2 separate regions of the Homo sapiens genome follow, and region 1 is linked to region 2. Evidence: fine-mapped expression QTL. A gene starts in region 2. The other region holds a variant in brackets. All regions are shown on one strand. Distances are between the middles of the regions.

What was found.
Region 1: its variant is fine-mapped to the expression of ST6GAL2 in sun-exposed skin (GTEx, PIP 0.99).

Annotation. Positions count from the first base shown.
Region 1 is chr2:107,163,480-107,166,389 of GRCh38, reverse strand. No RefSeq gene overlaps it. Among named protein-coding and RNA genes, the nearest start is that of LINC01789, 200 kb to the left of the region's middle. The variant A/GATA (reference allele first, on the strand shown) is at 1,255.
Region 2 is chr2:106,884,661-106,887,570 of GRCh38, reverse strand. ST6GAL2 (ST6 beta-galactoside alpha-2,6-sialyltransferase 2) reads left to right here and starts at 1,404. Exons shown (of 6, transcript NM_001142351.2): 1 at 1,404-1,478. LOC124907864 (a long non-coding RNA gene) reads right to left here and starts at 1,038. Exons shown (of 2, transcript XR_007087169.1): 1 at 464-1,038.

The DNA of each region.
Region 1 (2,910 bases), 280 kb before region 2:
CAGATGTAATAAGTTCCTCAGAAGTAGGATAAGTTGCAATGACTACACGCCACTCAGATAAGAGACATCCACGGGCTTCTCCTGCACACTAAGGAATATAGGTTTGCTCCTCAAGGGAGAAGTCTAGGGATCGAGATTGGGAGTTATTAGCATGTAGGTGAATGCAGGACAATGGGTGTGGTCAGTTTGTCACATAAGAAGAACCTTAACAGTGTGAAAATTGAGAGACTGATGAGCAAGAAGATTTATGGGCAGAGAAATCAAATGAACATTGTTTGGCCATTGTGATGATTGGTATTGTTATTTCAGAGCTAAAGCAGATTGAACTCCACTACTGGAACCTTATCATCTTATGAAGCTGCAGGCACTTTGCCTCACTTAGTTCCAACTGTGTGCACTACCAGGCTGCCAATCATTTCTTAACTTCCCCACCCTCAGATTCCTCACCGTGGGTGACCACACCTGTTCTAATGACCATGAGGATCAAAAGGCACAGAATGCATTAAAGGCCAGGGGAAACTGAAGAACCACAGAAGTAAGAGGTGGGGCCATTGCTCTTCTTGTCTAGTTAGAGAAGGAAGTGCAACCTACAGGTTAAAGACTTGAATCTGGATTTGGACTTGATTATAGCACTTACAAGTTGTTTAGCTTTCAGTAAGTCACTTAAACTCTCTAAGCCTCCTTTCCATTGGGATGATTCATTTATTCAACAACAATGTATAGATGATACCTACATCAACCAGGCAGTCTAATTGGGGTGAGGATCACATGCAAACAAAATAAAAATCCTTGCTCAGTGGCGCTTATGTTAATGGTACCCAGATCATCAGCTGTTATAAGGATAACATGAAATAAGGCATGGAAACTGGTGAGGCACAGTGCCTGGAACAAGGTAAACTCTCATGAAACATTAGCTAATTGTATCATGGGTAAGACCTTGGCCAAAGCCACCTTCTAACCCTCTTCTTCCTGAGGCTGCTTCTAGTGTTAGAGCTGGCAAGCTAGAGGAAAGCATTAAAAAAGCATAAATATTACAACAAACTACACTGTTTCCACTCATGAACTCACCACATTAATAACCATGTTATCAATTTTAAATTGCCCAATATTAAAAATGAAGTATTACCATTCAAATATTTCTCACTAGCTTTAATCGTCTTGAGAAAAGCAAGTAAATTTCAGCTTAAACTGATAAAGTAAATGATTGACATTTTAATATGCAAGGAATTTATGAACTACTTACCAATGATAAAT[A/GATA]TCTTGCCACAGTGTATGGAAAGAGCTAAGACTGGCTGGGGTTGCAGGACTCTGCAGATGGGCTCTCTGGAGTGGGTGCCAATGCTGGGGGCAAGGGCGGGCCTAGGGAATGTGAGCTTACATGCTCAGCTGGGAGACAGCCCTCATCAGAGAGTCCAAGAGGTCCCAACACAAAAATTTTAAGAATACCTAAACTAACGTATATTTCCAACTTCCACAAAAGGGAAAAAATGTGGTAAATACAAGATGAATTGTGACACAATTGATCAAACTGATCTTAGATGATTTTGGAAGTCAGCAGGGAGGGATGTGCCAGATGCCTAGAAATGGGAAAGGCAAGTGCTGGGAGTTTCTCAATGTGTTGTCAACATTGCCCAGGACCCCTGAGCTGACACTCAGGTCTTTTGGTCCTCCTGCTGTGTCCCCAGGTTGGGACAGGGGCAACATGCAGGCAAGACTTTTTTTTTTTTTTTTTTTTTTTTTTTTTTTGAGATGGAATCTAACTCTGTAGCCCAGGCTGGAGCGCAGTGGCGCGATCTCGGCTCACTGCAACCCCCACCTCCCAGGTTCAAGCGATTCTCCTGCCTCAGCCTCCATAGTAGCTGGGATTACAGGCACCCACCACCACGCCCAGCTAATTTTTGTATTTTTAGTAGAGACAGGGTTTCACCATGTTGGCCAGGCTGGTCTTAAACTCCATATCTCAGGCAATCTGCCCGCCTCAGCCTCTCAAAGTGCTGGGATTACAGGCGTGAGCCACTGCGCCCGGTAGGCGAGAGTATTTTTGACTACCTGGCAGTTACCTTGCTAACTATCAAATTTAAATTTAATATCGTATTTTAATCACCAATTTCCTATGCATTTGGTTAAGCAATTCATTTCTCCAAGGCCTAATCACTCATGCCTAAAGTGTCACAATGAATCTGTACATGAGCAGTGATGAGGACACACCCTGAGCATTTGATGTTCCCAAAAGAAGAGGAGCAGAGAGTTCTACTGAATCTTGTTCTGATTTGTTAAATAAATGGAGCTGAACATGGTTTTAGGGAATTTGGGGGCATTTGTGTGTCTATGGTGAAGCAGCATTAGCCATACTAAATGTTCTGTCTAATGGCCAGTGATAAAGACAATTTCCAGCTTTCTTTGAAAACTTCTAATTAATAAATAAAAGATATATAAGAAAAATTTCAATAAACAAACCAATAAATATACGTCTTTGGCATGGTTATTACATAGAGAAAGCCTCAAGCCAAGAGTTGTTATAATACAGAGCACATGGCTTAGCCTCATCCCTTTGGTTTATAAATCATTCATTCATTCATCAAAGTTTAGGAGATAAAACAGATATAGATCTCTCAGATTGGGAAAGGCAAACACATCTCAACCTCAGGTGGAAGAAGTACAATTGTCCTGAGGGAGACACTTTGTTTTGAGAGTTCTGATAAAGGCAGTAAAAAATAGCTTAAGGGTCAAGGAAGGAAACAGACAGGGAAGAGTAAATGCTTTGTTGTGGTTAGGAATTTTAAGGCTGCAAGGAAGACAGAAGTGACCTGAGTTCTCACAAAAACACAAAAAGAATTGAGGAATCCAGGAAAGTAATCTCAGCCACCTCCCAGCTAGGCACCCCCACCCCAGCCACAGCACACTGGGACACCA
Region 2 (2,910 bases):
GACACTCGATGGGCACCTCCCCGCGGCCCCGCCCGCAGGCTCCAGCTGCCCAGCTCGCAGCCGCCCACTGGCTCCGGAGGCTGCTTCAACCACTTGTCCCGCCGGCTTCTACCCCAAGAACTTTCCGTCCCTCTTGGGGTTGGGGACCGGCAGTGTGGAGGGGCGGGCAGGTGGGGGTCTCCAGGGAGCACCGTCACCGGACTTGGCGAGCTACCCTTCCCAAATGAAAGGTGGCCCGCTCCCAAGTCCATCCCATATCCTTAGAGAAGCTCTGGGAGCGAGGGCCAGGCGGCAGTGCGGAGCCTGGTTGAGCGAGATGAACAAAGGGAGCTAGCGAGCCGGGGAGGATGCTGCGCTCCCCTGCGCCCCACCCAGCCGGCTGCCAGGCGCTGCCAGGCGCGCAGGTAGCCCGGCCTTCCGCGCTGGCGGGGGGAGGTGTTGGACAGGGTACACAAAGACTCACTTCCGCCGGGGCAGGCGCCGGGACTCCCTCCTGGCCGCCCACAGCCTGTGCGCATTCCTGCATTCCTGCCGCCGCCCGGGACCCGAGTGCCCCGGAGGTGTCCAGGCGCGGTGCCAGGCGGGTACTGTGCAGGTAACCTTCGGAAGAACTAGGGCTGGATGGAGGCGGCGGCCGGGGAGAAACACGCCTTTTTAGGCAGCCGTGCTGCCCCGCACCGCCCCACGCAGCCCAAGTCTGCAGTCACTCTCCGCGACAAGCAGAAATCCGCGCGCAGCCAGGGAGCGCCCCGCCTGCGCTCGCCGGCGGGCCGAGCTGCCGGGCCGGGGGCGCGGGGAGGGGGCAGCCCAACTTCCCAGTGCCCGGCTCCCGCCAGCTAGGTGAGCCTGGAGCGGGAAGGATGAAAGGGATCGCGGAGAGGGAGGGGGCTCTGGGGCGAGCGGAGCTCGGGGGCGGGGCGCGGCGCAGCCTCGGTGCGTGGGCCGGGAACCGCCGCCTCTCCCCGGGGCTCGGGGCCGCGGTTCCTCTGGCCGCGGGAGCCGCCGCCGCGCTGCCCGAAACAATGAGGCGTGCAGCGCGGGGCTGAGCGTAGCCTCCCGCCGGCTTTGAGGCCGAGCCACCCGCTGTGCCCCGCCGCCCGCGCTTGCAGCTGCCGCCGGCGCGGAGCAGCGCTGGCCCCGGAGAGGTGATCCCGCAGGCCGCCTGGGACGGGAGCGCGGGGCAGCTCCGAGACCCCACGGTGGCAGGAGGAGGACTCGAGCCTGCGGCAGGACGACTCCCGCCGCGCACTCGCCTTCTGCAGCCCCCAAGTTCCGCGGCGTGAGTCGGGGACCCCGGCCAGGGTCCCAGCTCTAGCGGGCGCCAGCGTGAGTGTGGGAGCGCGTAGCGCGCGCACCCGAGCGGCTGCCGGGGAATAAAATGTGACACGCACGCCTTGGACTCCAGTGCCGCGCTGCCAGGGGGAGCACCGAGCACCACGGTGTCGTGCGCTTCGAGGCGCGGCGTGGGAAGAAGGCTGGTAAGGGAGGGCACTGGGTAAGGGTTGGCGACGCCTTTCTTGGTGGCGCTGCAGCCTCCGCGCTGCTGTGCGCGGAGTTACACTCCGTGTTTAGGAGCGAGACCCGTGTGTGGGGAATGTTGAAGGTGGTTTGGGGAAAAGCAGGAAATTCTGGAGAAGCGAACGGGAGGACGGCTTGCGCTTTGGGGACGGGCGGATACAGTTGTGCCCCTGTGGCTCAGTAAAGGTGATCTTTTATTTTGGCTCTTTTGGCTCTGGAAGGGAGTGAAGATTTTTGTCTTTCTTCAGCCAACCCCCGTACAAAACTGCACTTCTTAAAGGTTAAAGTGTGTTCTGTTCATTTCTGGTTCTCTGTGGCTATAATGTTTGGGGTAGTAGGGATCTTTAGAATCCTAAATACCCGAGTGTTAATTCTTATGTAGTTGGCAGGCGGCAAACTCCGCTTTTGGGTTTACTTTCCGCGGTGTTACGGAGTGGATATTTGATGCATTCTTTTGAGTAGGGAGTGTGACGTCCATCTCATTCGGATTTGCCGGTTCTGTGTTGGGGGACTGAGTGAAGTTAAACTCAATGGCTCCCGCAAGTGCTGCCTTCCAAAGAGCTGAATAGCTGTGTTTGGAGAAGCTGTGCTTTCCAGGAATTTAAATGAGACTTTTTGTGATTGCCTTCCAGGTCTCTCCTCCTAGTACCATATTTGTTTTGTCAGGCTGAACTTTCAAAGCTGTTTTGTAATCTGAGAAGCACTTTTGGGGGGAAAGTAATGCTTGGCTGGATTTTTGTGAACTTATTTTTATTGGACATGCGAAAAATTTGGCGAGAGGCAAACCATATTTGGTTGAAATCATTGTCTTTTGCACCACTGCCGTTCTGACCATAAAGGGGCATGCTGACCCTCCTCGCCGAGGACTGCCTGCTTGGGTGAGGGGGGTCTTTGGTGGGCTGGAAGCACATTTTGTATTTAGAGAACTTTCTGCACACTTGAAAAACCCCATGCTGGTTACTTTGATGCTTCCCTTTTTTGAAATTCTGATCAACATTTTTTGCCAACTTGAAATATAATTTATGACCAAGGAAGAATTCCAATAAAGTGAAGTGCTATATATATATGATGTATATGTATATACATACACATATGTATATATGTGTGTGTGTGTATGTATATATATATATATATATATATATATATGCGCTGCAAATTTAGGGTTAAAACTTTTTTTAAAAGGAAAACTGATGTGTGGCCTTGAACCTGTTTTTACCCACTCTCCTTCCCCCATTATTTTTCTGGAACTGACAACCAAAATTTTTATATACCACTTGAGGAATTTTGTACTAATGCATTAAAAGAAACTGTTGGCAAAGGTGAATGGATATTGTGCTCAAAACTGATGAAAGTCTAAAATAATAGGTGAAGTGCCTTGAATTTTACTGCAAA